2 linked regions of the Homo sapiens genome follow. The protein of the gene in region 1 interacts with the protein of each later gene in a biochemical or structural test. Each region holds a gene or a part of one and is shown in the gene's direction. Other genes may lie near its edges.

Evidence for each region.
Region 2: the proteins of TNIP3 (region 1) and STAT1 form a complex in vitro, tested with the Homo sapiens proteins (one study listed by BioGRID).

Annotation. Positions count from the first base shown.
Region 1 is NC_000004.12:121,154,034-121,157,855, reverse strand, and holds part of TNIP3 (TNFAIP3-interacting protein 3), read left to right. Parts: intron 1-612; coding exon 613-762; intron 763-3,176; coding exon 3,177-3,305; intron 3,306-3,822. UniProt on the Homo sapiens protein: Binds to zinc finger protein TNFAIP3 and inhibits NF-kappa-B activation induced by tumor necrosis factor, Toll-like receptor 4 (TLR4), interleukin-1 and 12-O-tetradecanoylphorbol-13-acetate.
Region 2 is NC_000002.12:191,004,080-191,007,901, reverse strand, and holds part of STAT1 (signal transducer and activator of transcription 1-alpha/beta), read left to right. Parts: intron 1-240; coding exon 241-339; intron 340-3,822. UniProt on the Homo sapiens protein: Signal transducer and transcription activator that mediates cellular responses to interferons (IFNs), cytokine KITLG/SCF and other cytokines and other growth factors.

The DNA of each region.
Region 1 (3,822 bases):
TGCTTAAGCTGCTTTCTCGAACGGCTTGCAGGTGTGTGAAGACAGTGTTAGTGATGGCTATAATCTCCATCTTGGAAGATGCATCCATCTCTAAGATTCTCCCTCTGGACTGTGGCCACTCTGAGGACCTGTCACTCTGTCATCAGAGTGATTTGGCACCTAGTAGGAGGTCAAGTGCTGCAAATTACTGATAAATTAAAGGCCATGTCTGTTTTTCTCTGGTGTAGGCATATGCTACTTAACCTGCTGCCCCTCATTGCCCTTTCCAGACCAGGCTAGGCTCACCTGGAGAGTTGAGAATAGAATGACAAACCTACAGATTCCCCTGGGTGGGGTCTAAGTCTTTTATCCCCTCTGAAGTAGGGGTGGTTTGGAGAAAAGAAGGAAGAGCTGGGTGGTTTGGAGAAAAGAAGGCTGTTTTGGTGCAAGGCCAAGCTCCCTTTGAAACGCGAGTATCCCGATCTGTGTTCGGGACGGTGGGAGCTAGAACCTCTCCTTAGGGGACGTCCTGGGGTGGGGCGTTTCTGCCAAAGTTCATAGCCTGGGAATAAATCCAGGGGCTTGTGAGCTTCAGAGAAGGTATCTGCAGCTGTCTTTGAACGACCTCCTCAGGTAGCAGAGCTGAAGACGAAACTGGACGCCGCGGAAAGATTCCTCAGCACGCGGGAGAAGGATCCGCATCAGAGGCAGAGAAAGGACGACAGGCAGAGAGAGGACGACAGGCAGCGCGACCTGACCCGGGACCGGCTGCAGCGGGAGGAGGTGGGCGGGGCCCGGGTCCTCGAGCCCGGAGGATCCAAATAAAAGCAAAGGGGCGGGGGGATTTCCTGTAGAAAACCTACCGTTTTATTAAAATCAACTCACTACTGAGCAACGACCGATGTGCAAGGGTGCATGGGTTACGCAAGTCCCCAAGAGCCATGAACAAGGGTCACTTCTCTAGAATAAGAAGGAAGGAGATTCTCTGCCGGCTTCCTCCTGGTTTGCATAAATAGGCAGACAGTCATTCCCCAGTCCCTTCCAGGAAGAAGAAAACGGATCCATAAATTTGCTAACTCTCTAGGGCATTTCAGCCTAGGAGAAATTTTTTTTTCTTTTGCTTTTATTCGTATTTATTATTTTTATTAGTAGTGTTCATAATAATAATATGGCAATACCTTGTATTTGTGCAGTAGCTTTTCAAGCTTACAGAGAGATTTATATATGAGGTCTTACTTCTGTCACCATAAATTTATGACATTTTTTAAAGCCTTCGTCCTCATTATCTCATTTAACATTCTTGGCCCACCTGTGAGCAAAATATTATTTTTGCTATATTAAAAATGAGAAAGCTGAGATGTAAACAAATTGAATTGCCCACGTTGATGAAAAAGGACTTGAACCCAACCTCCAGATTCTAAAGCTCTATCAGTCCCTTGCTGAGAACTGGATGGTGACAATTGAGATGACAGCTTTTCCTGAAGAACACTTTTTCTTCCTGGTTTTACTTTCAATTATTGGACTTCATGAATATTGTAGAAAATGGGAGGAAACCTTAAACTCTAATGGCCCCTCGTTATTTTAGGTATAGTAAGAAAAAACAAAGTGTAAAGACTCTGAGGGGAAATCTTATCACTGATATCGTGAGGCAATGGCAATATTTTAAAACATGTACAAATCTTAAGGCAATGTCTGAAATTCGCGCAGACAATGCCAGTCCAGGTTTTCCTATCTTGCTGAGGATGTCTTTGTCACAGTGAGTCAGGAAAACAGAGTTTAGCAACACTCCCTTTCTGCCATGTAGCAGTCATTTCCTTTTCCAATTACACTCTAGCCAGGAATCTGAGTAATTTTTCCCTCAATGCAGTTGGGACCATTATCTTATTGGAATAATTTTCTCTTAAATTATGCTAAATTAGAAAATAATTGGCTTATTTTCTAAGTGTATATGTTCATTCTATTTAAATAAAAGCAAATAGAAATATTTTCCCTTTTAAAGAAAATGAATTACCTAAAGCGGATTTCTTAAATTTAATAATCATATTGGGAAATATTAGTTACTCAAATAACACACTTTAACACATATATTAGCTATTTTTGCATGTCAAGTTACCTATTTTCTGCAATATTTATTTTACTGGGTTAAAATCTCAATCTCATTAAGAATCCAATTTACTTCACAAAATGTTTGCTATCTATTATACAAAATTAAGAGGTAGGAGATATTGTCTGAATCCAGAGCCTGTTGATGTTTACGCAGCTAACCTTCAGTTGTTTAAAACACTGCACTTCTGGATGACAATTTTAGATTGTCATCTAAAATTGGAGGAGTGGTGGCAGTTGGACTAGTTGATTTCTACCTTTTAAAAATAATAATCACAACAATAGAGTGCTCTAAATAATGATCTGTAATGAAAGGTCTTATTGGCCTAAGGATTATTCTCTTTTCCCTCTTTCTAATACAGAATGATGCAGGAATGAGCTTTGAGATATTTAGTATTGTTTTCTCACAATGAGAGTTTTTTCTTTTTAAGACTTTCAGCTATTTTTCTTAATCACTTATCCATCACCTAGTGACAGTATATAAGGACTTGCTTATCCTGCAGACCCATTTGTCTGATAATTGAAAGTAAGAATTGGGAATCCAGCACTTTGGGAGGCTGAGACGGGCAGATCACGAGGTCAGGAGTTTGAGACCAGCCTGGCCAACATAGTGAAACCCCATCTCTACTAAAAAATATAAAAAATTAGCCGGGCGTGGTGGCAGGCACCTATAATCCCAGCTACTAGGGAGGCTGAGGCAGGAGAATTGCTTGAACCTGGGAGGCGGAGGTTGCAGTGAGCTGAGATCACACCATTGCACTCCAGGCCGGGAGACAGTGTGAGAATTCGTCTTTAAAAAAAAAAAAAAGAATTGGGAATTTTGATTTTTTTTTTCCTGGGGTCACAAAATTTCTAAGATACTTCAGTAAATTCTGATAAAAGAAAGATTCCTTCAATCCTAATTCTAGTGTGCATCCAAAGAATATTGCTCAAATGGAACATTAAGTTTAAAGTCTTGCAGGTCCTGTTTTTATTGTATTTCAGAAGGGTGACCCCTCAATCTGCCTGCCATGGCTGATATATCAGAATTCCTACAATATCATCTCATTTGACTTGTACTGACTTTTATTTTCTTTTCTTGGTCTTAACTTCAGAAGGAAAAGGAACGCCTAAATGAAGAATTACATGAATTGAAAGAAGAGAATAAACTTTTAAAGGGAAAAAATACTCTTGCGAACAAGGAAAAGGAACATTACGAATGTGAAATAAAACGCCTCAATAAGGTATCAGTCAGGTCAAGCATGGGAGATTAAAATGAGAAGTCCCTGCATAAAACATTCTTACTGACAGTCGCAACAAAATCTAGGCTGCAGTGTGGGTCCCAGCCTTGGAGGCTTGCACAAGAAATTATCTGTGATTTTATAAATCACTCCTAGCTGCAGCTTTCAGTCATACTTGGCTAAGGAGGCTTTAGAGAATTTTTGTCCCTACAAAGATTCATCATGAGAAAGAGAAATGAGGAGGAATTACAGAGACAGTAAGAACATTTCTTAGTTTGAAGAACCACATAAAGCAAGTGGGTGTTTGCGAACAATAACGTATCTCTTGGTCAACCGCAAAAGCTTCCTCAGGAAACAAACTGCTCTTTAAAATGATCACTATGGAGTTGGGTGTGAAACACACTCTAAGGAAGCATGCTAAATGCAGAATCCAAGGCTGAGATGATAGCTCTCTCAAGTGCAAGCCTAAAACCTACTTTAAACCTACTTTAAAGTCAGAGAGAGGAAAAGTGTGCGTGTG
Region 2 (3,822 bases), on another chromosome or scaffold:
AAATACTTGTTTTTAAATCAAAAAGTACGTTAGGTACCTGCACTTAGAAAGTTAAAGCAATTTTTGTCATAATTCGTGAAAGAAATATTTTGATTTTAACAAACATAGCTTATATAGAATTTAATAGATGAGAGATGAGGTTTCCCGGAGAATATAAACAAATTCATATCAACTTACAATACACAATAAAGTAAACATTCTGCATTTTAATTTATTTTTGTTCTAACCACTCAAATCTAGGATAATTTTCAGGAAGACCCAATCCAGATGTCTATGATCATTTACAGCTGTCTGAAGGAAGAAAGGAAAATTCTGGAAAACGCCCAGAGATTTAATCAGGTACTTTTTTCTCATTGAACACATAAACTGTAATAAAATAAAAATGTATTCATTCATCAAATACTATTAGGGCCCATGTCAAAGCAATGATGAATATCTCTCTAATTTTATAGCCCCAAGAAGTGGGAGAATCAGATTTAGAGATTTTATAGAACCAGGCTTTAAGAAAGATCCTAATCTAATGGAATTAAGTTCTAACGAGGAGAGAGAACATATAAACAAGATACTTCTGGGTAGCATAAAGTGCTGAGAAGATAACATGCTGAATTCATGGAGTGGCTGGGAGTGGGGTTGTTCCTTTAGATCAGGGTCAGGAAAGGCCTCTGAGTTGCTGGCACAGGAATGGAAGCAGGCAGATAGAGGGTTCTTGCAGCTGTCCAAGGTAGAGGCAGTGGAAGCTTGCGCTCAGTAGAATCAGTGGAGGTAGGAAGAGGTGGACAGATTCAGGTTATGCTTTGGATGTGATACCAATATAGAAGGATCCTTATGTTGAAGGATTAGATGCAGGAGTGAGAGCAGAAAGTCAAGGATGGCTCTACAGCAGCTACTAGAACCCCTTGAAAAATGGTAATGCTGTACACGGAGCTGGGAAGGCAAGGAGGGGGCAGGGGCAGGAGTTTTGTAGGACTCAATAGGTTTGTGGAGAGAAAAGGAGGCTGATGGGAAAATCAAGGGCTTTGTTTTGAGCAACATCAAGATACCTATTAAATATTCAAGGCATCAAACAGTAAATGAGTCAGAGTTGTACTAGTATCAAGATTTTTGATCATTGTTTTATTAATCCTAATACAAACCTTCCTAGTTGTCAGGGTTCAGCAGAGTTTTGAATTTGCTATGGCATTTAGTATTCCTTTCTTGAGCACTGGGGTGGTGACAACAAGCCAACAGGCAGGCAGTGTGAAGCCACCATGTTATGGATTGTTCTGGAGGAGCCCATTGCTATATGGATGCCAGAGGACACAGTATGCATCCTGTGTGCATTTCACCAACAAATAACTACCGAAGTGAACTGTGTGACAGTGGAGAGGGAGGGAGTTTAGGTGTGGTGGAGGATGCCATTCTCCACACACTGCCTGAGCATTTGTCCCAGTCCTTGTAATCCTGTCACTTCCCTAGGCGTATAGTTCCCATCTTCTTGTCACACTGATAGCATCTTGCTGAACTGAGCATGTAAAGATACATATTGCTTATTCTAAACTCAAGCTGGCTAGCTCATCTGGTACCCAGCCTAGGGAACAAAGGTGTATATCAACGCTGGAGGAGAAGCTGGCCAGGTTGTCTCCTCTGAAAGAGGTGTGCCTGTCTCTAACCTGGCATATACCTGGGAGATTTTCAGCCGGCAGTTTTGATTATATGGGGCTTCCATCCTAAAAGTAGTATGCGTGGGCCTCCTCTGTATTTCTAATAGACTTGAAAGGACAGCCAGGAGCAAAGATGGGCAGAAGGACAACCTGTTTCCCCCAGCTGCAAGCATGTCATCCTCACATTTGGCCCCTTGGCCCAGAGATGGCATTGGCAGCAGAGTAGGTGACCCCTGCTCTCCCACATGAACCTCATCCCCTGGCTTTGGATCTTGAAGGTTTACCAGCTTTTGAGCTCCCTCCCCATTAAAAATGTAGGTAATCTGGGGATTGTTTTGAGCCTCTCAGAGGACACCTGAGTCCGTGAACACCTTTGCAAAGCCTTCTTGGGGTGTGAGGGAAGTTTCTGGGTGTCTGGGGATGTCAGGGAAAGGGAAAAGGCACAATAGGTGCCTCCTTTCCAAAGTTATCCAGCCAACTATTGGCTAGGTAGGTCAGAAACATTTCTTCACCATTTCCCCCCTTGTTGAAGTAACTTTATTTTATTAATACAGACATGCATCACTTAATGACACAGATACATTCTGAGAAATGCACCACTAGGTGATCGCGTTTTTGTGCAAACATTATAGAGTGCACTTACACAAACCCAGGTGGTATAACCTACCATACACCTACACTATATGGTAAAGCCTATTGCTCCTAGGCTACAAACCTGTACAATATGAAGTTGTACTGAACGCTATGGGCAATTGTAACACAATGTTATTTGTGTATCTAAACATAGAAAAGGTACAGTACAGATAGTGTGTAAAAGATAAAAGGTGGTACCCCCATAAAGCTCCATTCTAATCTTATGGGGCCACTGTCATATACGCGGTCCATCGTTGACTGAACCATTGTTATGTGGTACATGACTGTGTATATTCTATTCATGCTAAAGTATATGTGTATGGAATGGTGTGATGTCTGGTATTTGCTTCAAATAATCCCATTTGGGGACTAGAAGAGTAAGGAGAATAGGGATGAAACAAGGCCATCCATGAATGCTAATTGTTGAAACTGTGATAGGTACATGGGGATTCAACAGATTCAACAAGTTAAAAACATGCAAAATTCCGAGTTAGTTCAGATCATTTAGAGACCACAAAATTCTATAGACATGCCGAGATGGGAAATTATTGTTCCCATTGTTTTTTAATATAAGAGCTTTTAGAAAATACATTTAAGAGAATATTATGCTATACACACTGTAGTAGACTATAAATGTTTCGTGTGCTGTCTTACAGCACACTAAGTTTTTTTCTTTCTTTTTTTCTTTGTGGTGAAAAAGCTAGTTGCATGTCTAGACAAAAATTTAGGTCCATAGGGTCTGAAGGGATGGGGAGAATTTCTTTCAGGTGGGAGGGAAAGACATGAGGTGGATTCTAAGCTTCCTTTGCTGTTCCATCTTTGTGTTCTTAAGGACTAATGGTTACCATATGCTGAGTGCTTATCATGTTTCAGGCCCTGTGCTAAGCACTTTATAAACATTATTTCATTTGAGTAAATACTTTCGAAACTATCACTGAAGTTAGGTATTCTTATCCCCATTTTAAAGATGAGAAAACTAAGGTTTAGAGGTCAGGTACTTCACTCAGAGCCACAGAGCTAATGAGAAGTAGGTTTGGAATTTAAACCCAGTATTGTCCAACTCTAAAACTAGTTCACTGGAGAAGTCACTTTTCAGTTTTCTAATCTGTGGGATGGGATATGAGGGCTTTCTGGCTGGAACTTCTCACACCCATGGAGTGCCTATTCCCTTACTTGGACAACTGCTCACTCCATTGGAAAGGACCCCCTTCCTGAGCAGAAGACTTTTCTTTGCTCTGGGGTCTGGAGTAACCAAGTTCCCATCCAAACAAGGTCTCTAGAGGTACAGTAGTGAAACGAGAAAGTAAGAGTCAATGACAGCCGAAGTCCCTTCCAACTTCAGTGTTTGAAATTCCCGTGGTTTCAGTACTCCTGGTTTCTTAGAAAGTTAAAAAGTTAAGGACTCACTGTGAAAGTGGTATCAGTACTAAAGTGTACAGGAGCAGCCAAGCATCTGCTTAGCAGATGGGGGCAGGGTGGAGGGAAGCAGGGAGGGATGAGTGGAAGGGGTAAGAGAGCACCAAGGGTTTGAGTGACTTGGAGGGACTAC